Linked DNA regions of Homo sapiens: all the other regions are linked to region 3. The links come from fine-mapping of genetic effects on gene expression. A gene starts in region 3. Each other region holds a variant in brackets. All regions are shown on one strand. Distances are from middle to middle.

The links. PIP is the estimated chance that this variant, and not a neighbour inherited with it, causes the effect.
Region 1: its variant is the best candidate, but not a certain one, in a credible set for the expression of FBN2 in whole blood (INTERVAL, PIP 0.86).
Region 2: its variant is the best candidate, but not a certain one, in a credible set for the expression of FBN2 in whole blood (TOPMed, PIP 0.78).

What each region holds. Positions count from the first base shown.
Region 1 is chr5:127,808,985-127,820,149 of GRCh38, reverse strand. All of the region lies in intron 5 of CCDC192 (coiled-coil domain containing 192), which reads right to left. Among named protein-coding and RNA genes, the nearest start is that of CCDC192, 110 kb to the right of the region's middle. The variant T/C (reference allele first, on the strand shown) is at 4,962.
Region 2 is chr5:128,573,586-128,584,750 of GRCh38, reverse strand. No RefSeq gene overlaps it. Among named protein-coding and RNA genes, the nearest start is that of FBN2, 41 kb to the right of the region's middle. The variant T/C (reference allele first, on the strand shown) is at 6,180.
Region 3 is chr5:128,534,296-128,545,460 of GRCh38, reverse strand. It overlaps FBN2 (fibrillin 2), which reads left to right and starts at 7,216. Exons shown (of 65, transcript NM_001999.4): 1 at 7,216-8,111; 2 at 8,977-9,059. The coding sequence starts at 7,858. RefSeq lists enhancers at 6,390-6,890, 8,616-9,546.

The DNA.
Region 1 (11,165 bases), 730 kb after region 3:
TACAGAAAAAGTTCTAAGGGAAATTATCTTTGTTCAGTCTCACACACATAATTCACAGCATTATCTGCTCAAAATAAGAACATTTAAAATAACACAATCAGTAAGAGTATGAAGATGAAATGCTAAGGTTAAGTTTCAATATTAGAGATGTACGTGTGTGAGAGAGTGTGTGTGCGTGTGTGCTTTAAAATACTTTGTGAAAACAAACAAGGATAAAGATAATCCCTGAGAATGGAAACTAAGGCTGCCTGTGCAAGTGCAAGCACCTTATAGACCATGGACTATTCATTTGTGCAGAGGAGCAGGAGTCTAAACCTCCTTCTGCCTAAAGTATGACAAAGATGATTCTCTAACCTTGGACCTGCTATTGAATCTCCCTGTAAATTGTTTTATAGGGATCGTGGTGGTGGTCTAAAGAAAGAGCAAACTTCTTCATGAAAGGATTTCAGAATCTATGGTGCAATCTATAAAATAGATTCATTTTAGAAGTAAAGACATCTAAAAAGAAACAACCATCAGAGGGTTTGGCTCCCATGCTATCTTTCACTGTGGCATTAAATGTTTGCTAAGATGTAAACTTCTTTCATTTTAGGTCTTTAAAGTCACATGATGGAAGTGACCACCCAGACTCAAAAAAGATAACATATATTATCACATCACTGACTCCACCCTGCCAGATAAAGGCAACCTCCCTACAATCTCAAATATTCCTGTGGAAATAACATGGTTATTTACCCTACCTGAGAACCGCCTGTATTTGTATGGCAATCTGACTGGGGAGAGAGTAAGAATACAGAGTCAGGAACCTAGAGCAGAGTCTGTTGACATAATTATGTGGTGCCTACCCAAGCCCTGAAGTTCTTTTGGGGATAAGAAAGAAGCAGGCATCTCTTGAGGGAAAGTCGTTGTTAGCGCGCTTCCTAGTAGTTGCCTTAGCGTGTACCCTCCTTGCTTTCAATGGTGGCTTAATTTAGGGACAGTAGGGGGTCTTTATCTGGAGCCATGGGTTTCAGGGACTTCCGGAAAAGTGACATTGAAATGGATATGGGTAGACATGTATGAAACAGTTTACAAATAATGAAAGCTAGGATCCCTTTCAACAGTTAATAATCTCACAGGAAGAGCCCAGCACTGCTAGGTTTTCTTTTTCTACTATGAATCCATTATGTGGGGTATTAAGGAGTTGTTGCCTTTCCTCAAATGAAACAAAGCAAGAAGATGTCATGACCTGAAAGTCCCAGCATTGCCAACTCAAGTTGGTTTCTGAGGAAACTTCCAATGGCTGTAGCCAGCTATAAAATATGTGACATGCCTTTTGGGATTTTCCTTACCAGTCCTTTCCCCTAGCTAACATCCAGGCTCTTTCAACTCTCCTTGCCTTTGTACAGGCTACTTCCTCTGCCTAGATCACTCCCACCCCCATCTTCCCTTGGACAGTTCCTCTCCCTAATTTAATACTCAGCTCAGGTATCACTGGCATACCTGATGGCTTCTTGGAGCAGTCTCCAGCTCCACCCTGGGTTAGGGATGGTTCCTCTGAATTCTCATAGTAATTTTTGACAGCCACGATCATTCCACTTGTCATAATGTGCTATAAGACCTATGTATGGGGTCTCTATGTAATCTCTTCTTGATAGCAGTAATTCCAAACTTTGGTTGCACATTAGAATGACTTGAGGAAATGTTAAAAGTCCCCATGTCTTGTTTGTACTCCAAATCAATAGAATTTTGGATGTCTAGGAGTAGAACCCAGGATTCGTTTTTTAAAAAAAATGTTTCCCAGTTGACTTCAATGGTGGCCAAGGTTGAAAACCTCTGCATTAGATGACAAAGTCCTAGAGACTCAGTCTTTAGTATGTCAACCCAATGCATAAGACTGATGTTAAAATTTTGCTAAATTAATGGATTTATATATTCAAATTCAAGTATTTTAGACTCTTATCAAGTGACATTAAGAGGTAGCAATTTATTTATTCCAGAGTGCAAGCAGGTTATAAGCAAAAAAATATGTAAATATCATGTTGATTAAAAATCACTACGCCCATTGATTTTAGAGCAGTGATTTGGGAAAAAGCTATGCTGGGTTTTTTCATATACTTTATTCTGAAGACTCTTCTGATAGTAATTTGTACTATTTTTACGGATATTTTCTAAAGCAAGGTCATGAACTTTGAAGAATTGTGGATTTGTATGACTACTTCTACAATGTCATAGCTTAGGAGATTTACACATGTAAGGACTAGATGCAATGTTTCTAAAAGCGTGGTTCAGAGATCAGCTGCATCCAAATAAAAATACATGTTTCCAGCCCTCATCCTAGATATGCATTTAGATTCTTTGGGAAATAATTCAAGAATCTGTTTTCATTTTTATTTTTTATTGAGATATAGCAGTCATCCTTTTAAAGTGTACAATTCAGCAATATTAGTATATTCACAAAGTTGTGCAACTATCACTACGGAGTCCAGAACATTTCATAAATACAAAAATAAATTCATATCCATTAGCAGTCACTCCCTCACTCCTTATCCATCTCACCCCCTCAGGCCAATGGCAACCAGTACCTATTCTGGACATTTTCAATCAATGGAATCTTACAATATGTGGAGTTTTGTTTTTGGCTTCTTTCACTTAACACAGTATTTTCAATGTTTGTCCATGTTGTAGTATGAACCAGAATTCCTTTTTATGGATAAATAATATTCCATTAGTTGAATATTTTACATTTTGTTTATCCATTCATCAATTGCTGGACATTTGAGTTGTTACCAGTTTTTTGCTATTGTAAATAATGTTGCCATGAACATTTTTGTGCAAGCTTTTGTGTGGACATATTTCCATTCTCTGCAGTATATACCTAGGAACAGAACTGCTGGGTCATATTTTAACTCTTCTACCTGTATTTTAAATAGGGCTTTCAGGTGAACCTAAGACTCACTAAATTTGAGAATCACTTTATTAGGGTGTCACTATTTCCTCCAAGGCACTGTACCTGTAAGCCACCAACTGCCAACAGGTGTGACATTGCACCCGGTAATAGGTGGAAAAGAAAGACTATCACAGCATCCAATCAATTATGATTCATAAGAAAAATGTTAACAATATGAATAACTAATAATATCACATTATCACCTTTGTTTGACAAATTTAAATCCAGATATATTGAAGGACAAGGTTTAAAGAAACAAATAGCATGGAATAAGTCAATCATTAAGAACTCTAATATTTTTCCAGCCTACAGTTGAACTTGCCTTGATTTTCTTTTATCTGAGACCCACAAACTTACTGGGTGTGATGGAACTATAGCATTCTTTTTGCCTGCCAACCATCTTTGAACACTTTTCCTAAGCTTGGTTATTTCCCCACCTTGAGACCTCACTTTCTCAAAGCAGAAGCCTCCCTCGCATCCTCAGTGCAAGGCTTGAAACATTTATGCCAGAATTCAGATAAGAATAGCTGCTATGTGCCCTCTGTTCACAGCAGAAACACCCTGTTTAGAAGCAAAAGTTCTAGTGGAGGCTTCCAGTGCACAGAGCCAGAGGTACCAGCTAGAACTATACAGCAGTGGGAAGCTACCTGGGGAAGTTCTGTGGTGTGATTTGACCATTGTTTCAGCTTCCATTTCCAAATCTGGTTCTCTGGCTCTCCTGGAGAGTGAGAGTTAGCCATGGCCTTCACTTAATACCTATTCTGCTTAAACTGGTATTTCTGTAAAACAAGAACATGACTGATATCACAGGACTCTACCTTAGAAGCCCCACTAAAGCTAAACTAAGTACAAGCTTATCCCAAATTTGCTTATTAGCTTTAGGGTCCTAGCAAATCTCTGTCTGCCTCCTTTGCAGAAAATCCCCCCTTTTCATGGTTCAATGAGCAAATTCCCTCTAAAAAGCTTTACTGATGCAATTTGAACCCTTTGTAATGTTTAATGCTAATTATAAAATATTTATCCACACAACAGTATGTTGATTTCTAAGTCACTCTCTCCAGAACACTAACTCCAAATCATGATTTCTTTGCCAAGTCCATCATAAGCCCCTCCCCTCCTCATTACTTTTCTCTAACACATATTAATGTATCTCAACTTCTTTAAAGTACATTGTCTAATAGCTTTATCTAACCAATGATGGATGAAACCTTTTAGAGACAAAATATGTGATTTTTGTACTTTTTATATACATACTGTATATTTAATAACACCTGATCCCAAATATAATCAGTCATGGATTTTGACAAATTCTCTTTCTTGTACATCTCTCTCTTTTATTTTTATTTTTTTTTTCAGACAGAGTCTCGCTCTGTTGCCCAGGCTGGAGTGCAATGGTGCAACCTACTCTCACTGCAAGCTCCGCCTCCCAGGTTCATGCCATTCTCCTGCCTCAGCCTCCTGAGGAGCTGGGACTACAGGTGCCCGCCACCATGCCTGGCTAATTTTTTTGTATTTTTAGTAGAGACGGGATTTCACTTGTTAGCCAGGATGGTTTTGATCTCCTGACCTCGTGACCCACCCGTCTCAGCCTCCCAAAGTGCTGGGATTACAGGTGTGAGCCGCCATAGCCAGCCCATACATCTCTCTTTAAAGAAACTCCTTAGACTCCTGTGGGCAATCTGGAAGGCTTAGAGAAGATTGTTTCTGTGAAGCTGAAGGTAGATTCCATGCAGGAACTCTGTGAATTTATAGAAATCATGTAAAACCTGATTTTCCCCACCCCCTATCATCCCCAAATGTGCCAATGGACAGACCCAGCCTCAAGATTCCAGGTTTTCAGTCTCTTTGATCACTTGCTCCTAAATGAAATCCAGCAAGAGAGAGGAAGAATTTTACTTGCTGTTCTGACGTTTCACCATCTTCCTCAGATTTAGTTTGCTCTGCTATGCGGGAGTCAACAGAAAATGGCACACAAATATCCATCGACTCTTTCTAAAATATGTTAAAGTTGATGTGTACAATAGCTCCCAGG[T/C]CACACAGTCTATTAATACACCACACAGATCTGAAAATATGCCCATGAACCTACAGTTTCAGATAGAGAAACACCAGCCTAGAGTCTTACTACTGAGCATTTTTAAGGCTACACATGGTCATTGCTGAAAGAGAGAGATCCTTCTGTCATAATATTTATTCATGAGAGGTGCAAAGAATTATATTTTGAGGCCAGAAATTTTCCCAACACATACTGTCTTGAAAATAAAAATAAAAAAAACCCATCAGAGAAAACTAATTAAAAAATATTTTTAAAAATTCGCCATACTGAAGATGTTGAAAACAACTGTTTACCCTCAACAATGTTTAAGACAACACAGGTACGTAGGACATGAATGGGAGAACAGTGGGAGCTGTGCAGCTAGAATTTCATTGGCACAAATTTCCAAACATGTCAGACTTGAAACTAACCAGCAAGGGATTGCTTTGCTGGAAAGTCATTCTAAAGTCTAAATTCTTATTCTAAGATCCAGGGCTGAAAGGCAAAGTAAATTCCTCGGGCAACACAGTTTTGGAGAAGTCATAGAAAGATCTCCCAAAATGTTACTGAGTCTTTTCCCAACTAAGCTTTTAGCTATTCCAATTAACTAAAAACTACACATTTATAAGCATTAAACATGCTACTGTTTAGGCTAAAATCTCAACCCTCCATTTCCATTCAGTGAAGCTTTTATCCACAACAATCACTTTAACTCAACATGGCAGCCTTGCAAGGGTTACCATGGCAGAGTTCTTTGGTTACTTTGGTTACCTCCTGAGCTCCACACTCTGGGGAAGTGTGTTTTATGCGGGAAAGAGCATTGAGGGGGAAACATGCCCATGGGCTCAAACTGGACATAACTTGTTTTTAATGCTTAATGCAAACATTTAGCTGTATTCTTATTAGCAATTCCACAAAGAAGAATAACGCCTCCTATTCTGATTTCCGACTATTCCCTCTACTGAACTTCTAGTCTCACTGTTCACATTGTTCCTGCTCCCACTCCTGCCCTTACTGCCGTCTGCATTCTCCCCTACTCCTGAAGCAGCCTCCCTGTTTGACCCTCCAAACCTCCTCCTGCTTTTCCTTTTAATCCTTCCTCTAAACCAGTTCTTCTGTGAGGACAGACAATAGCAATTCACAACCAAGGCTCCCTGCACCCACTAAGCCTGAAGGATGAGAAACTGGCTTGTGAGGATCAGTAAAAATAGTTGAAGAATGAATAATTAATAACTATTTATTTTGGTTTTACATTCCTTTGCCTCTTCTTGGATTTTGTGATTTACTGGTATCCTTTCTATGAGAAGCTCAGGTCCTTCTTAGTTCCTATAACACAATATTGTCATGAGTTTTTAATGGAAAAAGTTTAAGAAGTGTAGAGTTACTATTTTAGTTTTTCTTTGTTTTTTAAGATGATTCATATTTAAACCATTTGTGGACTCTGACCTGGCTATCCTTGCAGAAATCACATCTGCTTGAACAAGTCTGTCTGAATCATTTTTTTAAATATGGTCACTGAGTATTGTTACAGATTCTGAGACTATGACAAAACTTTTCAGTCATAAAGGCTCAAGCAAACTCTTCCAGGTCGCTTTTTACTCTCTGTAGTCTCCCAGTGGGATTTATGTCAGCCCTCAGTAAATGGCACATAAAAGAAAGGGAAGAGATTGGGCAAAACATAGAATTATTTATATTTGAAACACTACAAATGATAAAAAACTGCAGATGAGCAGTTACTTAAATTTTAAATAAAATTTAAAGCTAGAAACAATTTCCTTTTTTATTTTGCAAAAGAGGGTATTGATATCCTCAATGATTTTTAGGAAACTATACAAAAATTTACTTGTTTAAATTTTCAAAAATTCTGAGTTTTTTCATTCAATTTCCTTGAGGGTGCTTCTAGAGGAATTCCTGACAAGAGAATTTGAGAGTGGAAAGGCTAAAGCAGAAAAAGAACAACATAATGAAATAGGGACAGTTTAAGTCCCATCCTGGGCCCCCGCAATGAGGAAGGTGAACAGTAACGTCAAAAGGGCCTCATGGAAAGGTGTGTGCCATCAGGCCCTTCTCCGCCCTGCACGGGCTCCCACTCTAAAGGGACACAAATGTCTCCAGGAACATGCATCCAAAAATGGATGTCAAAGAAACGGTAAAATCAGCTGCATTTGATTTAGCACTGAGCACAGGAAATATGCATCATAAAAATTCCCAGTTGGGGCATTTGGTTATGGGGTCAAGCAAGAGTTAGAGATAAACAGGTAGGAGGGCATTCTCCAGGAAGCTGAGAAAGTAAAGGTTAGGGCAGCAAAGGTGGAGGAAAAAGAGTGTGGTCAGAATTGCCTTGAAACATCAAAGATTGTCTTTTTCAGTTGCAAAACTCGTAGGCAGTAGTTTTCCATTCCCCATGGCATTGACCTCTGCCTAAAGCAATCACTGTGTTCTTACTCAAGTGAAGGTGAGCAGAAACGCCCCGTACTAATTCCTCCTTTGGCAGAAACAAAACAGTCTCCTACATGCTCTCCTCGTGCACAGAAAGAATGAGTGAGTAATATCTTGGGCTCAACAGGGACATGTATTTTTTTTGAAGACAGTGAAATAATTAAGAGTTAAAATCAATAAAATGGAATTTGGTACCAAAAAATATATGCTTTTAAACACTTAGATAAATGTCAAAGCATATGTAGCAAATGAGGGTCAGGACAAGGCAACAATAGCAGCAGCACCGATGCACTGATAATCACCATCAACATTAATGAGGGCTGGCTATATCCCAGGACCACTTTCAGCTCTTCACCAGTGTCATCCCATTTAATTCTCACAATAATCCTGTTGAGGTAGGTTCTACCATTATTCCATTTTACAGATAATCACGATGCTGAACATTCAGAGCATTCTCTCACAAAGAATGTGGTTAAAACTTACCACTGAGCAAAACATGGAAATGTATGCTGGTTTTGTTGTTTTATTTTTTTGTTTTGTTTTATTGTTTAGCAAGCACTTACATAAAATTGATTGTGTTGTAGGTACCAGTCTAAGGATTTTATAAAAATTAACACATTTAACCCTCATGACAAATCGGTGAGCTAGATACATTTAGTATCCCCATTTTGCAGTCGTGGAAATTAAGCCTCAGGATCAAGCAATCTACTCAGACACTCAGCTAGTAACTGGTAGAGCTGGGCTCTAAACCAAAGCAGTCTGTCTTGAATGTTCAGAGGGGAAAATGTTCTATACATGCAGTTTATACTCAAGAATTTCTTAAATATTTAGTCAACTCATCCAATTTACTGGGGCAGGGAGCAGTGTGTATGGAGGGTGTGTATAGTGTGAGGAAAGGCTGGGGAGAGGAGAGACAGGCATTTATTGAGTCTCCCTTTTCTTCTCAGACCTTGCCAATGACTCTATCACGTATCATGATTATTGGTGTAGGTACTCACATTTCCTCTTATGTATGTTACCACCTGGTAAATCTGATGATAATAAACTTATCACTGGGGAGTAAAAGATATCTAACAGGTGAAAGAGTAGGCAAAGTCAATTTCAGTGCTAAGAACTAATGCTTACAGCTTTGATTTTATTTTACCTAATAATTTTAGTATTTCTTCACATTCGCGAACAAAATAAATAAAAATATATCACATTTTGACTCAACTATCTAAGCACATATTTCTGTCTAAGCATTTCTGTTTAAGCCTTCCTATCTAAGCATTACTAAGTACACAACCCTCTAAAAAAAATCCCTTAAGTTTCAAGTAAGTTCAGCCTTAAAACATTAACTTCCTCATAAAGAGGAATTGCTGCTACTACATTACCAACACTACCCCCAACTCCTATGCAAGGAGAGGAAATTAACTTTTGTGGTAGAGTTTGAGCATCTGGAAAGCCTTTGGTTGGGAAACCTGGTCTCATTAATAAAACAACCTGAAAATGCCCCAACAAGGGAGGGAATGGAGATTGGTGCTTTGAAAAAGAAAAGGAAGTAGAAAAACCTAAGGGGAGGAAGTTGCTTCAGAATTTAGAGCAGATTAAGTATTGGGGGTTCTTAAGACAGCAGAGAGCGTACTCCACTTGTACACAGGTCCTTTGGGTAATAAGACCTGAAATAGGCAATTATATGTAAAGAGGCCTGATGCTGAGTGTTGTATATAGACCAGGAGCTGCCATAAACCCTCTGTTAAAGCTTAGCACTGAATAAAAAGAGCCACAAGGCTCTGAATGGGCCCATAGGCATGGACATGGAGCAGAGGGAAGGAAAGTCACAACCCACTAGAAGTTAGTGGCCCCAACTTTTGGCAAGTAAAGTTACTGGGGTACTTCTGCAAATCCCAGGAGGGAGAGAGGACCACCCTTCCTCCCAAATGACCGAAACTGAACTTTCTGCTAACACATGACACATGGAGCCTGAGTCAGATTTGATTTTATAAGAAACTGCCCTGTGAAGCTTATTACTGTGTTTACTGTCAGGTTATTAGTGAGGACATTTATTATTCTATTAGGTAGTATGCCTTCCTGCACCAGTAATGTTGCTGCTTCCATTGAGTGCTGGGCTTGATTTTATTCCATGGATGCGCTTTTGTTTTTATAAATGATTATTTTGACCATCAGAAAGACTACAGCCAACTTTTGCCTTACCTCTAACAAGTGAGTATTTTATGTTAGGGCTGCTTAACAAAAATCCATATTCCCCTCTCCTTTCTGGGTATACAGCTAGACTACCCTTTTTAGCATTCCTTGTAATTAATGTGGTCTCATGACTGAGTTCTAACCAATGCACCACTTCCACGTATGACCAGTTAGAAGTTTTCCAAGCCCACACCTCAACAATCTCTTCTTTTTTGGCCAATTGGGATAGAGATGACCCCAAAATGACCTTGGATCCTACATGCTGAGCACAGCAGAGGCTCCAACAGTTTTTATCACAGAATGACACTAAATAACAATGAATGGGCAGAGTCTGCCCACCAGCAAGTCCCACAATGGACTGTTATTTGAATGAGAAAGAAATGAACTTCTATTGTGGTAAGCACTGAAATTCTGGGATCTATGTGTTACAAAAGCTAGCATTATCTAACTAGCAAACTTAAAGTGGCTGAAACAACCACCACAATACCTAATTCTCCTTCACTTATTCCTGGCCTTTTTTGGAGAACATCTTTCAAATTGTAGAACAGATGTAAGAAAATAGCAGCCTGAATGTAAAATCCAGTGTAAGGCTCATATTTAGGCTATGAATAAATGTATTTTGTTTGCCACACAGAGCAATCTGTTTTATTCAAATCAGTTGAAAACATTTACAAATGAGAAGATTTCACACCAAAAATCTGGATTTTCATTGTCTGAAAAATTAGTGATCTTGGGCTTTATTCTCCTTTTTATGTGAGTCAGGCACCCTCCAGACCCATATGACTGGTTCTGACCATCTTCCCTCTTCTACATTACTTACTTGGCCTTCGACTGCAGTAGACTTTGCCAGCTGGATTATCATAAATAGCTGGGGATTAAAACTATATGCAATACTAGCTAGCCTAGAATTACAATAAGGAAAGATTAACTATTTACATGTTATGTCCTTGGCTTCTTTTGATGGAAATTACAGAAACAGCCAAATAAAACCAATTATTACATTTGCTGGTCTGATATGTTCATGAGTGTTCCCCTCACTATGTCTTTCAATATTCCCTATATGAAATTCAACATAGAATCTCATTTTAGGCTTAACTCAACAGAAATGAATGGTAGCATCCCCCCCAACACACTAATTATTTATTTGATCATTTTCCTTGATCTGCCTTTGGCTGTTAGAAAGATAAAAGCCATATTTATGTTTCAGCTATATTGCATGGGAAGTTAGAACTCACATATGTGTATTCTATTTTTTTTCCTGATATTTCTATTTTATTCAAATATATATTCTCAATTATGGCTCTTTAAGTGCTTTTTAAAAATACAACTATTTCACACATTTGCATCTTATTAACAATCTCAGATCCTTTTTGAACTTAGACTATAAATAAATAAATATGGTTAAATTAAACATTATAGTTAATATTTAATGACAGTGTAAAATTGTATCAAGAGAACAGCAAAAGTTTAACATTCATAAAGTAACAGGCTGTATCCCCTTGAGATGCAAATTTTTATTTGATTTTCTTTCTTTTTGAAAATAAGATAAAATTACAAATAAATCTCTTAGTATCTTTTTTG
Region 2 (11,165 bases), 39 kb before region 3:
TTGCTACTCAGTCTCCAGCCCTCCAAAGGCCAAATTTATACAACTTGGTCCCAAACCTCAAGTACACACAAAAAAGCACTTACCATAAATCACATTGCATCCTTTTTTCCTTCTTGTATTAATAGGATCCTCTTTTGCCCTTTGGAAAATTTCCCTTGTCTGTCTCAGTCTAGTGGTTCAAGTGGACCTATCTAGAGGTGGGACACATCATCTGTGCTTGGTTAAGGGAACACTGGATCAAATTCAGCAACTGGCATATAGATGAACAAGTGATCCAAACTGAACAAATAAAAGCTCTTCTTGGGAACTATTAGGAAAGAAGTGCCCTTTCATTACAGCTTGACAGTCTAGATACGGTGTCAACTTTGGCCTGGCTTGACCATTTTAGCCATTACATGGTGATACCCTGCCTGGGAATTAAACCAGGACAGAAGATAACAGAGATGAGAGATAGAGTCTAATAATTTCTGATAATAATGGTGAAAATTCCTAGGTTCAGGCAAGGCTGAAGCCACCAGCCTTCAAAATCCCAGAAAAGTTAGCTAGTTTTGCCATAGCTAGATTAAGTGCATTTCTGTAACTTGCAACCAAGGGAGTCCTCACAAATGCAAGGCTCTAGCCAGCTGGAAGATGTAATAAGGAGGGAGGGAATGTTGTGACCTAAAAGCATTATCAATGAGCACTGAAACTTACACTTAAGCTTAACATGTGCTTAATATACATTAGTCGATTTTTGATGATATTGTGAAATGTTTGTTTATGACAGATAAAAATGCAGAATTCGAAGCTACATTGTATACAATGGGGATTCTGTATACTCATTTTCTTAATAGACTTTATTTTAAAGAAAATTTTCAGCTGGGCTCAGTGGCTCACGCCTGTAATCCCAACACTTTGGGCAGCTGAGGTGGGCGGATCATGAGGTCAAGAGATCGACACCATCCTGGCCAACATGATGAAACCCCATCTCTACTAAAAATACAAAACTTAGCTGGGTGTGGTGGCATGTGCCTGTAGTCCCAGCTACTCAGGAGGCTGAGGCAGGAGAATTGCTTGAACCCAGGAGACAGAGGTTTCAGTGACCCAAGATCGTGCCACTGCACTCCAGCCTGGCTACAGAGTGAGACTCCATCTCAAAAACAAAACAAAATAAAACAAAAAAACAAAAGAAAATTTTCAGATTTAAGAAAAATCAACCAGATAGTAAAGAGAGTTTTCATATGTCCCCCAACCCTCACCCAGTTCCTCCAATTGTTAACATCTTACATTAGTTTGGGACTATTGTTCCAACAGATTAATCAATATTGATGCATTATTTTAACTAAATTCCACAGTTTATTAAGATTGTTCTTAATTTTTACTTAATGTCTTCTTTCGGTTCCAAGATCCCATCCAGCGTACCAAATTACATCTAGTTGTCATTGTCTCCTTAGGCACCTCCTGGCTGTGACAATTTCTCTGACTTTCCTCATTTTTGATGATCTTGACAGTTTTGAGGAACATTGGTCAGGCATGTTGTAGGAATCCCCTCTACTGGATTTGATGTTTTTCTCATTAAGCTGGGGCTGGTTATGGGTTTGGGGAAGCAGGAAGGCAAACGTAAAGTAATTTTTTTGTCACGTCATATCAAGATTGCATAGTAGCAACATGATTTATGATTTATGAATACTGACTTTGATCATATGGCTGAAATAGTGTCTTTCAGGTTTCTCCACTGTAAAGTTATGATTTTTCTCCCACTTTTTGTTCTGCAATCTTTGGAGTGAAGTTACTATGTGTAGCCTACACTTAAAGAGTAGGAAGTTATTCTCTTCCGTCTTTAGGTTGGAGTAACTACATAATTTTTGGAATTTTTCTGCATGAAATAATTGTGTCTTCTCCCCAATATATTAACTTAGTCAATGTATTAATCCATTCTCACTCCGTGATAAAGAACTGCCTGAGGATGGGTAATTTATAAAGGAAAGAGATTTAATTGACTCACAGTTCTTCAGGGCTGAGGAGGCCTCAGGAAACTTACAATCATGGTGGAAAGGGAAGCAAACATGTCCTTCTTCACATGGTGGCAGGAGAGAGAAATGAGTGCCTAGTGAATGGGGAAGCCCCTTATAAAGCCATCAGATCTCGTGACAACTAACTCACTATCACAAGAACTGGATGGGGAAAACTGTCCCCAAGATTCAGTTATCTCCACCTGGTCCTTCCCATTGACATGTGGGGATTAAGGGAACTGCAATTCAAGATGAGATTTGGGTGGGGACACAGCCAAACCGTATCAGTCAATAATTTATTTATATTAGTATGAATTCTATGGATGGTTGCTTTATATTTTGGGTTACAATTCAACACCATTTATTTATTTTGTTACTCAAATTTTCCTGCTTCGACCATTGGAAGCTCTTTCAGTTGGTACCTATGCTTTTCATTATATTCCACAATGTGTGTGTGTGTGTGTGTGTGTGTGTGTGTGTGTGTGTGTCTAGGTTAAAAAAAAAGCTTGTTAATTTGTTTATCTTGAGCACTTTATTACTTTTTGGCATTACAAGATGTTTCAGTCTCATCTTGTATATTTCCTGCCCCAGTACTAGAAACAGCCACTTCTCTAAAGAGTACTGGTTCCTTTTTAATGGATAAAGACACTAGAAAACAAGATCTGGGCACTAGGAACTAGGTGTGATTGTTGTTACTACGGTATCGTTTCTTTTAGGACCTTCCAGGTAACAGAGCAGAGAAATATATGTATGTATCTAATTCATGTATATATACACATCAATCAATGTTTCTGTATATAACCATCTTTATCATTTTAAACATGAATTATTACTGATGTCTCCATCGCTGAATTTTTACCATGGGAAGTGTTCTGGCTTCCTCCCCTTGCTTATCTAAATTCCCACTCCAACAGTGAGAAAACTAGCTGCCACCATCTGCCATCCATCTATTATTCTAGAAAACATGAACAGAAGTATCATAATTTCTAACTTATATCTCTGATAAAGTTCTATCTCTGTATTTTATCAACTAGAGTACAGTCCTTTTGAGTAGTTCTCTCTGTCTTTAGTCTAACAGACTCTATTTATGTCCATAGGTACTTAGGTCAGCAACTTTTACCTTACCAACTTCAATGAGATTGTTTTAGATATTTGTTATACAGTGTAATTATCTTATCATTATCTGTATTCATTCCTGGGATCCCTGAATTCCTAAACTATTTTAAAAATTCACACATATTAAGGTTCACTCTGGGTTGTAAATTTCTAAGGGATTTGGCAAATGATTAATGTCATATATCCACCATTGCAGTATTATACAGAATAGCTTCAACATCCTAAGAATCCCGTGTGCTACATCTATTCATCTCCACTCATCACAGTCTTACCCTGAATTCTGGCCATCACTGATATTTCTACTGCCTTTACAGTTTTGCCTTTTTCAAACTGTTACAAAATTGGAATTATACAGTATGCAGCCTTTTCAAACTGCTTTTTTTTTCAATATGCATTTAAGTTCCTTCCATACTTTTTGTGGCCTAAAAGCCCTTTTTTAAAAAAATCCCAGAGTAATATTCCTTTGCATGGATATACCACCATTTGTTTATTCTTTTAACTACTGAAAAACATCTTGGTGGCTTCAGTTTTGCGTGATTATTAGCAAAGTTTCCAAAAATATTCATGCGCAGGTTTTTTGCATAGATATAAGTCTTCAACCAATTGGGTAAGTAGGTAGGAGCATGATTGCTGAACCTTATGGTAAGATTGTGTTTAGCTTTGTAAGAAACAGCCAAACTGTCTTTAAAAATGCTGTACCATGCATTCCCACCAACAATTAATGAGAATTTCTGCTGCTTAACATCTTCACCAACATTTGGTATTGTCAGTATTTTTTTTTAATTGCAGGCATCTAAGAGGTGTGCAGTTGTATTTTGTTGTTTTAACTTGTGATTCTTTAATGACAAATCATGCTGAACATTTTTATATCCTTATTTGCCAACTTTATATCTTCTTTGGTGGGGTATCTATTTAGATCTTTTCCCTTTTTTCATTGAATTGTTTTATTATTGAGTTTAAGAATTCTTTGTATATTTTGGATACAAGTTGTTCATCAAATATGTCTTTTGCATATATGTTTTCCCAGGCTGTAGTTTTTCTTTTCATTCTGTTAATGGTGATTCTTTTAGTCTTTCCCAAAGTACATTTTTTTCCTTTTAATTAAGTTCAATATATCCATTTTTCCTTCCCTGGATTGTGTTTTTCGTGATGTTTCTAAAAACTAGTTACCAAACACAAGGTCACCTAGATTTTCTCCCATGTTATCTTCCAGTTTTGCAGTTTACATTTAAATATATGATCCACTCTGAGTTTGTGTTTGTGACATGTGTAAAGTATGATTACTTCTTTGCATATAGATGTCCAAGTATTCCAGCACCACTTGTTAAAAGACCATCTTTCTCCATTGAATCATCTTTGCTCTGATCATCTTTGCTTTGATCCATTGAATATGTTTGCATGGGTCTATCTCTGGGCTCTCTATCCTATTCCATTGATATATGTATCAATTGTTTTTCCAATAATACACTCCCTTGATTACTGTGGTTTTATAGCAAGTTTTAAAGTTGGATTTTGTGTGCCCTCCAACTGTATAGACTATAGATTATCAGTGTTCCTATCAGTTTATGGCTCCAGCAGCTTTTACTCCAGATAAGCTGATCTTGACTGCAATTTTCTGTATTCACTTGTCTCTCTAGATTTCACAGCGACAATTTGCCCTGTGACCCCAATTCTCTGATGAGTCTAAGGAAAATCATTGGTTTTCAGGTTGTTCAGCACTATTCTTCTGCGGATGGGAGTGACAGCTTCCAAGCTTTTTATATGTCCCAGCTGCAATGCCAATGCTGTGACTCGGTGTGCTTTTTAAAGTCAAGTCAACTACTTAAAGGCTAACTCACTTGTGATTCCATCAGATCAGGAGGATTATTTTACTTTTTCTGGGGATACAGTGACGGTATACAAATGTTGGAGGAAACTTGAGGCTCTGAATCCCTCAGTCAGGGGGCACTGGTGGAGTTGTTGCTTTTTAGGCTGTGTGGCTAGGAAAAATTTGTAAAGATGAAAATACAGGTTAATGTTTTGGAGATGAGAGCCCCATTGGTAGATCTAAGCATGTATGTCACAGAGGGAGACACAAGTGAAATAGCATAATAAAGTTGAAAAGTATTTACACACATAAAATTTTGACTTATCAGTTGCTCTAACATTAATAATCCTTTTAAAAGATCTCTGAAACTAAGTTACAACACTGCACATGAAAGACCACAGCATGATTCTAGAGATAAGCTCATTGAACACCAACAGTTAATAAGGCAGTAACTATAAAGAATGAGTAGGTTCACAAAAAATGCAATTACTAGCATCATCTAGTAAGTCAATACCAGGAACAATGTCCTCTGAACATACTTGAAAAATTAGTCATTAGGCAGAGATATATGAAATTTTTATGGTTCGTGGAAAAATGAGTAAAGATGTTTGCAGATTATTACATAATCTATTTCCCGGGGTTGATTTATTGCTTAATAAAGTATTTGACGTGAAAACTAAAAGAGAATAGATTCATAATTGTTTAGAACAGTTGTTAACACACCATCAAATAAATTGGCAAAAATATAGAGACATCTGTATCGATGATGAGAAAGCAATGGCGGAAGAAATACAGGAATAGTGGAAAAGCTGTTGCCAAAGTACATTGAAAGACTCACTGTGTTTCACAGACCAGCACTGGCAGTTAAGAAAACGTAACATTAGACATAGTTCTAAACAAGGAAAACTGTCACTTTATTCAGATACAGCCTTTATGCTGCAGAATTATCAGAGTGAAGTATAATGACATAGGCAAGAAAATCGGACCCCACAACGAAGTCTTCATGAAGCCTCGTCCTTTGCCATCCACTCCTGTGTACAAGGAAAGGCCTCTCTCTTGTAAACACAGACAGTGAGCTTGCAGGGGTGCTATTCTTCTACAGGGGAATGGATGGTAGCTGGTGGGTTATTTGTGTGTCTGGGAAAGGGAAGCCAGGTAGCTTTCCTCGTAGAGAGAAATGTTTCCTCAGACTTCTACAGGTCTGCAAGTCTGGAAGGGGGAAACTCTCCTGTCTGCTTCTGGCTGGAGTCAAAATGGCTAGGCTC[T/C]ATTGGCCACCATGCTTGTTCAACTCCCCTATCTCCAGGAGGTGGAACAGGAAACACAAGGAGGGGAAACAAAAGAAAGAAGGCATTCTGCCCCTGAAGAGGGGCATGTTACTCCCCTGCCTTATCTTGTCAGAAGCAAGCACCAGCTTGGATCAAGAACATTTCAATCCATTTATTCATTCACACATTTGTTTATTTCAGCCCAACAAAATGAGTACCTATTCTGTGAAATGCACCATCTTAGGTGCAGGGCCCAACTGTGAAAGTACTCCAGTCATGAATCCAAGAATACCTGCAGCCCATAAGCCACAGAGTAATGCTTTGTCTTAATTTTACCAATGACAGGAAGAGAGTTATAGGATTTTTAATTAATATGAGTTTCTTTAAGAATAAGTCAAAAGTAACTCAATAGTGATAGCCATGGTGTGTGCACCTATCATCCCAGCTACTCAGGAGGCTGAGACAGGAGGATCACTTGATGCCAGGAGTTTGAGGTTGCAGTGTGCCATGATTACACCTGTGAATGGCCTATGAACTCCAGCCTGGGTAACATAGAAAGACCTTGTGTATGAAAGAATAATAATAATCTTATTTTATTTTATTTTGTTTTTTTTTGAAACAGAGTCTTGCTCTGTTGTCCAGGCTGGAGTGCAGTGGCACCATCTTGGCTCACTCCAACCTCCGCCTCCCAGGTTGAAGCAATTCTCATGCCTCAGCCTTCTGAGTAGCTGAGATTATAGGTGTGTGCCACCACACTGCCTAATTTTTGTAGTTTTGTAGAGATGGGTTTTTGCCATGTTGGCCAAGCTGGTCTTGAACTCCTGGCCTCAACTGATCTGCCCACCTCAGCCTCTCGAGGTGCTGGGATTACAGGCATTGGCCACTGCACCCAGTCAACAATCTGATATTTTAAATGGGCAAAAGATCTAAACAAATATTTCTTAAAAGAAGACATACATATGGCCAACAGGTATGTGAAAAAATGCTCAACATCACTAACCTTTGGAGAAATGCAAATCAAAACTACAATTATTTATCACCTCAACCCAGTGAAAATGGCTTTTATCAAAAAGGCAATAATAGATGATGGCAAAGATGTGGAGAAAGGGAAACGCTTCTACACTGTTGGTGGGAATGTAATTTAGTACAGCCACTATGGAGAACAGTATGGAGTTTCCTCAAAAAACTAAAATTAGAACTAACATATAATTCAGCAATCCCACCACTGGGTATATATCAAAAAAAAAAAAAAGGAAATTAGTATATTGAGGAGGTATCTACACTCCCATGTTTATAGTAGCACTATTCATGACAGCCAAAATATAAAGTCAACCTAAGTGTCCATCAATAGATGAATGAATAAAGAAAATGTGATCCATATACACAATGGAATATTATACACCCATTAAAAAGAATGAAATCCTGTCATTTGCAACAACATGAATGGAACTAAAGGACATGATGTTAAATGGAATTAGGCAGGCATAGAAAGACAAATATCGCATGTTCACACTCATATGTGGAAGCTAAAAAAATTGAACCCATGGAGATACAGAGTAGAATGATGGTTACCAAAGGCAAGGATGTGTATGGGGGAGGTGGGGTAAGAGGAAATGGTTAATGGGCACAAATATACAGTTACATAGAAGGAATAAGATTTAGTGTTTCGTAGCACAATAAGGTGACTATAGTTAACAATAATTTATTCACATTTCAAAAAACCTAAAATAGTAAAATTGGAATATTCCTAACACAAAGAAATGATAAATGCTTGAGTTGATAGATATCCCATTACCCTGACTTGATCATTACATATTGTATACTTGTATCAAAATATCACACGTGGCTTGGCATGGTGGCTCATGCCTATAATCCCAGCACTTTGGGAGGCTGAGGTGGGAGGATCACCTGAAGTCAGGAGTTCGAGACCAGCCTGGCCAACATGACAAAACCCCATCTCTACTAAAACTACAAAAATTAGCCTGGCGTGGTGGCAGGTGCCTGTAATCCCAGGTACTCAGGAGGCTGAGGCAGGAGAATCACTTGAACCCAGGAGGCGGAGGTTGTAGTGAGCCAAGATTGTGTCATTTCACTCCAGCCTGGGTGACAGAGAGAGACTCTGTCTCAAAAAAACAAACAAACAAACAAAAAAAACACATGTACCCCATAAATATATACAACTATTATGTAATCCAAAAAAACTAAAAATTAAAAAAGAGTAAGTTAAAAGGGAAAATAATTCCCTCTTATTTCTTAAAAAGGAACACTATTAACTAAATATCTCTCAAATATAGGTAACCCAATTCAACTGAGATTTGTTGGCTAAACCTCACGTGGAACCTGCCTTAAAGTTAACCTCATAAAGCCCTTCATCAAGCATCCATACATACACTCACACACATTTACTTCCAAGAGGCACTGATGAATAAGGCTGATTTTTACTGACATTTTCATGGAGTGATGGAATAATATTGGTTTACATCCCACATGATATAGCAAAATCTTCTAAACATCCTCTTCAAAAATTGGTGCTGAATATCTTCCATTTCCCCTTCAGATCCTATCTCTCTCTACCCTTCTCCACCCTGTCTGTGCCTTAGGAGGTTGACCTGCATTGACCACATCATTGGGCTTCCTGTCTGTGGTCAATGGCAAATTGTAGCAGGAGCAAGAGCAGGGTTGAGATCCCCTGGTCTATATCCTGCAGGGTTGTCCTGGGTCGTCTTCATTCCACCACAGAGGTTTCATCCCTTGTAGGCAGCCTTCTCATCACAGGCCCTGCTGACTCTAGCTTTTGAACAAGTCCTGCTCTTCAGATCTAGGAATGACAATGATGTCTTTTTCTTATTAGTGCAGGGATTCTACAGTATCTCTTATAGTTTTCCTACATGCTGCCTTCACAGTCCTTTTATTATATTCTCTTCAAATTACCCTAATTTGGATATGCCATCTGTTCTTTGCCAGAAAGTATTGACTGATACAATATCACTATTTCCCCTAAAGCTTGACTGTCTAAAGGATTTGTCACATTTCTATGTATCTCTCAGCCCCTCTCAATCCATCCCCATAGAGCTTTTCTCAGAGCGTGCTCCATACACTGACCTTAATCTGCAAAACCAAAAGTCCATCCAGAAGGTTCAACAAAATAAAATCTGACTATTAGCTTAAGGTACAACCATAGCCTCTTCCTCCAATCTTGTTCTGGGAAGACTCAATGTATTTGACTGTAGTTTCTTCTGGTTAAGGAGACTGTAATATTTTCTTGTGGCACCTAGGGTCTCCCCTACTCATAGTCTGCTCACCCTCCAAATCTCCCACTCTCTTACAGGGTGGAGTGTGTGACTATTTCTGAATGTCTGTTTATTCTACTGTCTAGCCTTGCCTGATTAGGTTCAGCAAAACCTTCAGAAGTGTAAACTGGGGAAGGTATACCTGCCATGCAGGTAGGGTGGGCAGCACCTGGATTCAAGAGGGAGGAGGGGATCAGGATTTGGAGCCAGGCTCCTTGTCATGCTTTTTTTCATCTGACACTTTAGTGCCTCCCCAGTGTTCCCAGCTAACACCTGTGTGCAGCATTGAAGGGAATACCTTTCCTCCAGATTTCTAACTCCTGTAAATGTAGAAAGATGGTAATGTAAAGAGACCAGTGCACATTGTCATAAAATGCATTGCATCCTCACCCTAACTTCTTGTGATAACCAAGAAAAATGATAGGATATTTCAAACTCCCGAAGTCCAAAGCAGGCTTAATATGATTGTGAAGTTGTTCTATCTATACTGGCTCTTCTAGATGTATGTTTTTGATGATCGCCAAGGGCTCAATAACTTCAGGTCAGGGATATGATCTCTGGCAAAGGCCTTGGACTGGCGGTGAAGAGCAAGCCAATTCCAAGTCTCCTCCAGCATCCTACTCCACAAGAGGTTCAGATGCAAGACACGCTGAGCCATATATCCAGGGCCTTTCCTGAGTCAGCCAGGTGGCTACTGATAACTGAGAATTCTGTTGGCCGGTGACATCTGCTAAGGTTTGGAAGGATTGTTTAGCCACACATCACCCCTATACTAACCTGCTTTAGCTTATTTCAATTTTTGAAACTGTGCTGCCCAGCACCTTCTTGCAAGTCTTACTGCTAATGTTTCTCCAATCTAAACATATGTGCAGAGCAAATCACTGTTTCCTGTTGACAAGCTTCTCAAACAAACTGGATAACTGGAACAAGCATCTCTTTCAGCTCCTGCTGCATTATCTCTAAACATTGTGCTATAAACACAGTCCCTTTTGCAAGTCCTTAAAACAGAACCTGTAAACTCCCCTTCATTTCTCTGCTTCCAAGACTTACCATCTACATGTCTCTGAATGTTTTAACCATGACTCAGAGCCATCTGCCCTGCCTACCACTACACCTCTTGAAAACCATAGGAGTTTAGTTTCTGATACCAGGTTCCAGATTCATGGTTCTATTCATGGGTCCAAAGCTACCTTGATGGTTTACCCAAAGCTGAGCATTTTAGCAGAGGATTCCGGGTCTCAGTTGCCTTTGAATATTAGTTGACTCATTAATGATTATTAGGGAAATCCCATGTCTTACCCACAGGAGCACTGTTAATGTGTAAGTCTTCAGGACTAAATTCAGAGACTCAGATTCCATTCATGCCACTTAATAGCCAAGTGGTCGGTCTCTTTCCGACCAATCTCTTAGCTTATCTGAGCCTCAGTTTACTCATCCAAAAATGAAAGAGCAGCCAGGCGCAGTGATGGCTCAGGACTGTAATCCCAGCACTTTGGAAGGCCGAGGCAGGCAGATAGCTTGAGCTCAGTAATTTGAGGCAGCCTGGGCCATGGCGAAACCTTGTCTCTACCAAAAATACAATACAAAGTAATCAGGCATGGTGGCCTGCCTGTAATCGCAGCTACTCAGGAGGCTGAGGTGAGAGGAACGCTTGAGCCCGGGAAGCGGAGGTTGCAGTGAGCTGTGATCTCACCAC
Region 3 (11,165 bases):
ATGGGTAAGAATGTGTCAAGTTTCTTTAAAAAGGTTTTATCCTTAATATTTTAAATGTTTTAAAAAGCATAGATTCACAGAGAATTGCACAGATAGCACAGAGAGATCCTGTTTACCCTTTACCTAGTTTCTCCCAATGGTTATTTCTTATGTACAATATAAAAACCACAAAATTGACACTGGCACAATGTGTATGTATAATTCTATTCCATTTTTCACATGCACAGATTTGGGTAAGCACCACCAAGTGGTTAGAGAACTATTTCCTCATCACAAAGGTCTCCCTGTGCTACCCCTTTAACTTATCACAGTCTACTAGTATTATCATTTTACCAGTATAGAAACCTTACCACCTTTTATGTGTCTTTCCCTTCCTCTGTTTACAAAATAATTTTCTTAAATATTTCTTATATATACCTGAGACAATGTTATAATTTTTGTATGAACCATATTTAGAAAAATCAAGAGATAAAATTTATTGTAATTACTCATACTTTTCCATATATTCCCTCTTTTTGTTCTTTCTTCCTTCTTGTTTCAAGAATCCTTTGGTTAATATTTCATTTCTGATTAAATAATTTCCTTTAGCCATTATTTTAGGGTGGGTCTGATGGAGACACATTCTTGTTTTCCTTCATTTAAAAGGGTCTTCATGTGTCCTTTATTTCTGAAGGATATTTCCACTGGGTATAGAATTCTTGGTTGACAGTTCTTTACTTTCTTTCAGCACTGAAGAAATGGGTGTCACTCCCTTCTGGCTTCCACACTTTTTGATGTAAAATCTGCTATCATTTGAATTGTTTTTTTCCAGAAAGGACAAGTAAAGTGTCCTTTCTTTCGCTGCTTTCATGATTTTTTTCTTTGCCTTTAATTTTCAAAACTTGGACTATGATGAGTCTTGATGTGAATGCCTTTGGGTTTATTCTGTTTAGGACTTATTAGGCTTATTGAATCTGTATATTTATGCAAAGCCCAAAATTTGAAAATGTTTCACCATTATTTATTCTCCAAGTAATTTTTCAGCAGCTTTATCCTCTTTCTCTTCCTTTGAAATTCAGATAATCAAATGTTACATATTTTATTATAGTCTCATAGCTCCCTAAGGCTGTTTGATTTTTCAGTGTATATACTCTTCATTGTTCAGTTTGAGTGATTTCTATTTTTCTATCTTCAAGTTCACTGATTCTTTCCTCTGCTCTCTGAATTTTGCTGTGAAACCCATCTATTAAGTTTTAAAATTTTGTTTTATTTTTAAATTCTAAAATTTTCATTTGGTTCTTCTTTATGTCTTCTATTTCTGTGCTGATGCTTTCTACTTTCTTTCTTTTATCATCTGTTTCAAGAGTTTTACAATGGCCCACTGATGCATTTTTATTGTAGTTGCTTTAAGAATATTGTCAGACAATTCTAACATCTGTGTCATCTCAGTGTTGATGTGTATTGATTTTCTTTTCTCATTTAAGTTAAGATCTTCCTGGTTCTTTCAATGATAAATGATTTTCAGTTGAATCTTGGAATTAAAAAAAATTGCTGGTAAATAGTAGGTGTATATGAATCTTGGACATTTTTTACTTTATTTTGTGAGACTTTGGGTTATATTTAAATTCTTTGTTTTAGCAGCCTCCTCTGATACTGCAATGGTGGGCAGACAGGGCAAGGGATGCCTCATTACTGCTAGATGACGGTGGAAGTCCAAGATCTACATGCAGCCTCTGTTGACACTCTTGAGGGGAGGAGTAACTTGTTATTTATTACTGGGCAGGGGTGACAGTACAGGGTCACCACTCAAGCTCTTCTGTACCACTCTGGCTAGGACAGTGGTGTTTCATTACTGCTCCCAATGTAGTTTCCCATGATATTCCATGACACCTTGGTGGTGGTGGGATGGCCTCATTACTGCTGGGCAGTGAGAAGATTCCTGAGCATCTACTAGGTATCTTCTGACACCATCCCAGCAGACAGGGGCATCTCATTACTGTTAGGTGGAGGTGGAAGTCCAGCTTCTCCACTGACACCATGGGGAGAAGGTGGCTCACGACTGTGCAGGGGGATGAAAGTCTGAGCTTTCCACTTGGCTTTCTCTGACACTATCCAGGAGAAGGGGAGGGATACCTTGCTACACCCTGGTAAGGATGAAAGTCTAGGCTCCTTACTTGGCCATTGTTGGTAAAGGTGACTACAGTTTTTTTCTGTGGTTTGGTTAGGGCAGTTATTGTCTAAAAGTGTTTTGTCTTTCTAGGCTATCCCTTTCTTGTCTTTTGGCTAGAGAGGGCAGGCTTTCTTTCGAGGCTTTCTTTGGTCTGTTGCCAATGGCATTTCCAAATTGCCAGATTTCCTAGCACTCATTCTGGGATACAAAAAGCAAAAGACAATTCAGGAAAACCACCATCATGTCATTCCTCAGGTTCCAAGGTCACTAGCAGGGTAACTAGTCTGCCTTCTTCTCCCTACCATTTACAGTCTTCTTATGTGTGCATGCTCTCTCTCTCCACATATATTTATTTATGTTTAGTTAAGTATACTTGCCAAGAGGAATAAAGTACATCTAATCCACTCTGCCTTTGTTCTTCTTGCAGTATTTTGAATCAAACCCAGGCATCCTATCATTTCATCTATAAAGACTTTAGTAAGTATAACATTAGCCAGTATATTAAAAATATAACAATGATTCCATTGTCACATCTCCCAAAATTAAAAATAAATATTTAATATCTAGTAACCAGTGTTCAGTTCAGTGTTCTATCACTACATAACAAATTACCCCTAAAGTTATAGGTTTAAAAAATTTATTTTGCCTTAGCCTTTTATGGGTCAGGAACTCAGAAGAGTTTGCCTGGGTAGTTCTTACTTGGGGTGTCTCACGCAGTTGCAGTTATATATTGACTGTAGCTGCAACCATATAAATAAGACTTACTAGACTGGATGATAGCATCAAAAATGTTATTTTTCACTAACATTCATATCAAAATCCCAGATAAGGGGCAAGCATTGCTTTTGGTGGTTGTGCCATAACAGTTCCCCTCCCTCTTCTCTACTGATGTCATTTATTTGAAGAACTTGGTCTTGTGGTATATCCCATTCTAGATCTGGTTACCTATATTCTCAAGGTATCATTTAATATGTTTCATGGTCCTCTATTGTTCTTGGAAACTGGGAGTTAAATGTAGAGATATGGTTACATTCAGGCTCAGTTTTTTTGACAAAGATATTTCATAGGTGGTCTGTGTACCTCCTATTGCACCATAAAAATAAAAACATAATGTCTGGTTGTCTTACTTTTCATAAGTTAATAATTAATCAGTAGGTTCTGGTGGTAACAGCTTGACACATTCACTAAAAAGTTCCCAATTGACTTTTTGATGCACGGCTTCCCAAGTAAATTTGTATTTTGGACCAGATAATGCTTTGCTATGGGAGACTGGCCTGTACATCGTAGAATGTTTAGCAGCATCTCTGATACTCTCATCACCACTCCCACACACTGTCTTGTTGTGACAATAAAAAATGTCTCCAATTACTGCCAAATATACCCTGAGGAAAAATGGCCACAAGTTGAACACTTCTTACCTAATGGTTTTAGCAGTTGTTAAAAACCGTTGCCTAGGTCCATTATTTTATTAGGGTTTACAAGTAGTGATTTTTCTAATTCCATCATTCCTGCATTTACAACTGTGGTTTTTTTTTTTTTTCAAAAGAAATACTTTCTCTGGGTCTTTCTAGCAAAGGAAGAATAACTGGTTAATAATTTTATTTATCGATGCGTTTAGAATAGTGAGCTGTGCCCTAACAACCTCCAAAAGTGGCCAACTAATTTTTGTTTGGAGTATCATTCGGAAATCTTGAATACTGACACACTTCATGTATTTCAATCTTTTGCTGTCATTTCTTTTTTCTTTTTGATGCTCAAGTTTCCCCATCCTTAACCAGCAAGATCTCTTTCAACTTAGCTCAGGTTTCCTTTTGACATGACCTTAATAGTCAGATAATTTCTTGCTTTCAGGCATGACAAGACAGATAGTCCAGATTCACTTTATGCATTTCCTTTCCCAGACTTAGAATCTGCCACTCACCCAAGGAACCCTGATTCCTTTAATTTAGAAATGGTATTTAGGAACCACAATCTGGTCACAATGACCTTATGGTTTTTGGGTTGTCACTATTTCTAGGTCTTTGGAACATAGTTCCAAAGCCAGAACTATAAAACTAAGTTTATTTAGAAAGGTTTAGCTTCCACCATTGTTTCTTTCCTCATAGTCTCCCCTTTCTCTACAGATAACCATTTTTTATTAGATTTAGTTTATACTTCTTGTTTGTTGTTAAATCTATAACACACTCATACCCCTAAAAAGTAGCATACAATATTATACAGCTTTCATTTAAAAAATATTGTAAAAAATAGACATAACATAAAATTTACCATTTTAATCATTTTTAAGCGTGCAATTCAGTAGCATTAAGTACATGCACAATGTTGGACCACCGTCACCATTATCCATTTCTAACTTTTTCATCATCCTAGGCAGACCACTTTGTACTCACTAAACAATAACTCATCCTTCCCATTTTCCTGGAGCTCCTGGTAACCTTTATTCTACTTTGTCTCAATGAACTGCCTAGTCTATCTGTACCTTGCTTTTTTTTTATTTTAGTAGACTGTATATGCTAGAGATCACTCTCTAAGAGCATACAGAGTTTCTCTTCATTCATATTTGACAGCTGCATAATACTTCACTGAATAGATGAAGTCATACACAACAGTTGCTTGTTCATGGGAAGTTTGTGTTTCTAGTCTTTCACTATTATAAACAGTGCTGCAAAGAACAGTCAAATGTATGCACCATTTCATTTTTTTTTGTCTATGTATCTTTTATATAGGTTCCTAAAAGTGGAATTGCTGGATCAAAGGGTAAAGGCATAGGCAATTCTAGAGCATTTAGATTTAATGTGATGGACAGGAATGAACCATGAAGCCACGTAAGTATTAAACAACAGCAACAACAACAAAAAAAGCAGATACAGGATGTTTTAAATGGTATGACTAAAACACTGCTTTAAACCAGGAGATAGTTACATTAGTTAGCTCTTTTAGTTTAAATAATTTTATTATTTGAAGCGAAGTACGTGAAAATAACTGTATTGCTCTTTCTCTGGATTTTAACAAATCGGTGTCTCACATGAAATTATGTAACTCTTATCTTTTCTTCTGCTTTATGAGAATACTGTAACAAGGGGTACTACCTTCAGACCCTTTGACTACATGGAGAAATAAAGGAGGGAGTTGTGCCAATTACTGGAGAATTTTGGCTGTCAAATAGCACATCTGGGCAATTTGGGCCAGAAATACATATATATGATATATGATATATATATGATATATGATATATATGATATATGATATATACGATATATATGATATATGATATATATGATATATACGATATATGATATATACGATATATATGATATATATGATATATGATATATATGATATATATGATATATATGATATATATGATATATATGATATATGATATATATGATAGATCATATATGATCTATCATATATATCATATATCATATATCATATATATGATATATATGATCTATCATATATATGATATATCATATATGATCTATCATATATATGATATCATATATATGATATATGATATATATGATATATGATATATATCATATATATGTTATGTGTATATATGTATATATGTACGTGTATATATATACACACACACACACACACACACCCTCCTATACATATTCAACATTTTCCCCTTTAAACTAAGGTTTTCTAGGCTTGAATAAACCAGACACTGCTCTTTTGTACTGTTTCGCAAACTGTGCTTGGATGGTCTCTCCTTGTTTTCAGGAGTGTTTGATTTTTAAATTGTGATATTCCACTAAATGAGAAATGACCAGGACTTCACAGAGATTTCATGAAAGGAGGGCCACAAAGGAAGAACCCAGAGCAGGCCGGTGAGAGGCACTCTAAGAGGTACAGAGGGTTGCACCAATTGCTAGGATTTAATCAATCAGAAGGGGTCCAAGCCAGGAAGCAAGGGCATGCCCCGAGCCTCATTTACCCGCCTTGTCACCACCCTGCCCGCTAGTACATTTCAGAGTCTCTAACCCCTCCCTGCATGCAAGCCCAGGCAGAGTCCTGCCAGGTTTCACACCAGAGCACACCCCTGCACGGACTCCCCAGGACCGCGGCGCCGGCTGGCTGCCTCGGCCCCCCGCGGCCGCGTGAGCTCCCTCTTGGTGGTGGAGGGCGCATTTCAATCTGGAAACTCCCAGCCCCTAATTTGGTCCCGCAGACTGACGCCGCTCCCGGTGGGGCGGTGGGGGTAGGAGGGCAAAGGGGAGGTCTCCTCCTTCTTGGATTGAGGCTGCAACCAACAGCCCCGTGAGCCTCTATTCCTGGCTGACTGCGAATCCCCCCATCCCAGGTCAGGGGCCGGGACCCTACAGAAAGACCCGTTCTCATCCTCAACCTTGCGGCCTCTGTCCGGCGGGGAAGTTCAGCTGCGGGTCAGTTCAGCTGCGGGTCCGGCCAAGCCTGGCGCGCTTAGGCACCCTAGTCCCTGGTCCGCGGCCGGGCGAGGACGGAGGGGGAGGGGAAGGGGCTGCTGCCTCCTTTCCCAAATCCGGTCCCTAATCGCCCCATCCCCCGCCGTCTACTCGCTTTGTACAGGCAGTCAAAACAGAGCTAGCGGCCAATTGACGGGGACGGGAAGCAAAGCCGCCTAGCGCCTCGCCCCCTCCAGCCGGCCCCCCGGGCCCCTCCTCTCGGCGCCCGGACCTTGGCCCTCCCTCTCCTTTCCCACTTCTCTCTTTGCCCTAACTTCGCCCCCATCCCCCGCTCATTTCCTCTCGCACCCGGGCTCGCCAATCCCTCTTTCCAAGTCCCTCTTCCAGCCCGGCCTTCCTCTCGGGTTCGCCCCCCTTCTCCCCAATCTCCGTCCTCTTCCCTCCCTTCGCCCTCCCCCCCTTCCTTCCTCTTCCCCTCACCCAACCCTGGTTCCCCTCGTTCCTCAGTCCCGATCTCTCCCTTACTCTGTCCCCGCCCACTCTGCGCCGGCCTCTCAGTCCGGGTTGAGCCCCACGTGTGGACGGCCGCGCCCCCACTGACAGCCGCCGCCCGCCGGCCCGCCCCGCGCCCCGCCGGGCCTCTAAAACCCCCGCGCCGCGCCCTCCACCGCCGCATCTTCTCCAGCGCCCAGCCTCCCGCCCTCTCTCTTGCTGGCCGCACGCCCCGGCCCCGCGCACCTCCGCCCGGCTCCGCAGCCGCTACCCGCGCTTCGTTGCCCTGTGGGACTCCGAGCGAGCCCGGAGGGAACCCTCCTCTTCTTCTGGGGGCGACTTTTGTTTGCTTGCCTGTTTCTTTCTGGTGACTTTTGCAGCTTTCCAATATCCGTCTTCGGAGCGCACGGGAATCCGCCGAGCTCTGCGTGCAGGCCCTTTTTTCTTTTGAGGTTCACATTTTTTGAAATTTTACGCCAGGGCTTTTGTAATTTCCTCCCCCGCCCGCTGACGGTCCTGGAGTCGCTCGGGGCTTTAGGCCGGTTATGCAACGTGTACCGCTCGGGGCTGCCGGCTGCACCTCCGCCGCGCCTCGCCGCTCACTGCGCTAGACCCGGCGCCCCGCGTCTCGCTTCGCGGGCAGTCAGGGGGCCGGCGCTCTGTCGAGGTCTCCAGCTAGAGCAGGGAGCCCGAGCCCGAGGGAGTCCCCGGAGCCGACGAAGGGCTTATTAGACCCTGACTCTTTTCTGAGGCGCGCAGATTTTGTCTTTGATCACTCCCTCTCCGCGGGTCTACGGCCGCGCGCTTTCGGCGCCGGCGATGGGGAGAAGACGGAGGCTGTGTCTCCAGCTCTACTTCCTGTGGCTGGGCTGTGTGGTGCTCTGGGCGCAGGGCACGGCCGGCCAGCCTCAGCCTCCTCCGCCCAAGCCGCCCCGGCCCCAGCCGCCGCCGCAACAGGTTCGGTCCGCTACAGCAGGCTCTGAAGGCGGGTTTCTAGCGCCCGAGTATCGCGAGGAGGGTGCCGCAGTGGCCAGCCGCGTCCGCCGGCGAGGACAGCAGGACGTGCTCCGAGGGTAAGTGGGCAAGCGGCTCCGCACCTAGGGCTCCGGCTTGGGGGAGGGGGGAATCCTCAGTTTGGCGGCTTTCTGGCCCACTCCGTCCCAGACCCTTTAGCTGGAGCCTAGAGCTGCAGCCCCCTTTGCCAGAATATCCAAAGACCCCCAGGAGCGCGTCCCCCTTTTCCTTCCCAACCCCGCAGCTCAGCGGGCGGAAAGCCCTCTCTCCGGGGGTTGGGCGGCGGGTGGTTAGGGGGTCCAGGGGTGCCGATCGCAGAGCGTGTGCAGAGCTCGCGCTGCGGGAACAGGTTCTGAATGTCCGGCGGCAGGCGGGCCTGGGTCCGCCTGCTGCAGGGGCCAGAGAAGCCTGCTTGCTCCCCACGTCGGGGCCGCCGCTCGTGAGCCTTTTGTTTGAGGACGTGTGCAGGGTTCACAGCTCACCTTCTCATCGTCAACCCGAGCGCTCCACCTTGCGACGCGCTTTCCTTGACACGTCGGGGCCAAAGTAACAGTTGACCAAGGAGGAATGGATTTGGGAAGGAGGGCAAGGATTCTTTGGAACGGAATGGTCCCTTTGTTCTCTGCATCTGGAAGCTAGAATAGTAGCAAATTATATGTTTCCATGCCTCTTTTCGCCCTTTAAAAAGGCAGGCAAGGGACGACAGATGAAAGGCAGTGTTTAGACATTTCTGACCCTCCTGCATTCCAGCATCTAGCTCTTTTGCTTCCACGTCTGCCTCCCGATCTCCAATAATTTGAAGTGTAATTTTGATTTGTTTGTTGTCCTGAAATCTACTCGCTCGGGGCATTGCTTACGAAGACCGTTTATATGTTGCTGCATCCCTCTACCTATCTGTTACGTGACCGCGCTTGTCCATCACAGGCCCAACGTGTGCGGCTCCAGATTCCACTCCTACTGCTGCCCTGGATGGAAGACGCTCCCTGGAGGAAACCAGTGCATTGTCCGTGAGTGCTTGGCAGGGATCGCAGCTTGGGGCAGCGCACTCGGCCCTATCTCCGGCCGACCTCTTGCACTCAGCCATTTGGACGCATAGTTGCGTTTAAAATCAAGTGATCACATTGCACTGATAATCGGGACGCGGCCCCATTTGAATAGTGGGGAAGACTCAACCGGTTTGAGTCAGTTCAGACTTCACTTCTAGACTCTGTTGAAGGGCAATAATGATAAAGATTTCAAAGATAATTGAAAGTTTTATCTTTCTATGTCTATTAATACAAATTGGAAGAGGGGAGGAGTAGAGCAATTATCTAGATAACTCAAAACCACTTTTTCTGTAAAAAATCCAGATGAGACCACATGTTATTATGCAAATTATCAGGCTTTTAACTCTGCTTGAGGTTTGGGCCTTATGAAGATCAAGATTTCTTAGGCATTTATATAAAACCACTTTCTTATTTCTGGTTTTATATCAACAACCACATAACCTAGATACGAAAGGAGCATTCTCGCGGATTTAGTGTTGACCTAAGTTAACAAACTTTTAAAAGACAGAACTCTTACAAAGGGGCTTGAGTTTTTTTTTTTTTTTGCTTTTTGGAAGACGTTTAAATTTAGGGTTTCCAGACCCTGAACCTCAATAGTGTGCAGTAGATTTCCAAAGTATGAATCTTAGACCTTGAAAAATTCTGTATCTCTGACCTTAAAAGTTTTGATTATTTTATTCTGTTTCCAAAGTGTATAACCAGTTCTCCAAGTTCTAATTGGAGAGCTCATTAGTTATCAGCCTCACAGTCACGGACTCTGGGATGTCTTATTTCATATGCCTGTAAATTTGTGACTTGCAGTGTGACTGGCCTTCTCCTGTGTGTTTATGTAGCACAACCACATTTGTCTTGTTGGAAGGAGAGCCAGGTATCATAGACAGCACATTCATTTAGAGCCAGTCTTGACTTTAGATTGACCTCCATGTTCTCCAGGGAGAAAATAATTATGCAACTGTGAACAGAGAAAAAGGGCAAGGCACACTAACCAAGGGATAATAAGGATGTAGTGGCATTTCTAACTCTGTATTTATTGGTTTTGTGGTTTTGAGATAGATGCTTAATGTTATTTCTGGGCAGTTTTTAAAAAAGAGATGAAATCTCCAGTGTCATAAAGACTAATTTCTTCTTATTTTTTCTACCTTAACATCCCACTATTTCCAATGGCAAAAATAGGAAACAACTGTGTTATTTAAAGTGACTTATAAATATTTTGAACAAATCCTCTGATTATAATAAGCCTTTGCTTTATTTTTTAAAAGAACATGTTCTGCATTCTTTTCTCTCCAACACAGAAGTCATATGTGAGGCATTAATGGAGGGTGGGTTTACTCTTTCAGGCCAGTAGGGCATTACCATGGCTGCTTTAAACTTACACGGTTTTTTAGACTCCTGAAACAGCTAACGTCACTCATCACACACCTGCCATACTAGCTGGGAGTGACTTAGGCACGGCGGAAAGTCTGACTCACTAAATGTAATGAATGTGACTGCCATTATTGAGTTGGAGAGCAGCCGAGGAGGAGGGATTGGTTCATGGTACGTGTTGAAAATCTGTAAAGTCAGATTTTATTGGATCAGTGTGGAATGGGAATTCCAGAGAGCAGAGCCTTCCAGAATATTTGCAGTAGAAATATATGTATGGCCCCACTGATCACTGGTAGAAAATCAGCTTTGAAAATCTCAGGGTAACAGTGACTATTGTAATCTGCATTTCTGAGACTTGAAATATTTGGATGGTTATGAGCTACATTGGAATTTACACGTATCAGAAATCTATGAGAGTAAACTTTGAAATGATCTTTATATCTGTAAGAAACATTTATAACACTTGTGTCAAGACGTATCTACAAAAATATTTATTAGAAACACATCTAAAAATTCTAAGTACCTAAGATTATTAAACAGTGCACAAAATAGGGACAGTGTAATACCTTTATATTCTATTGCATGAGTCTCATTTAATGCTAATAGCCTGCATTCAATTCAGTAGTTCAATTAGTCTGACATTTAAAATGATCATATGTAGAGGTAATAAGTGAAATGAAACCGTTATAAACTCAAAATCAA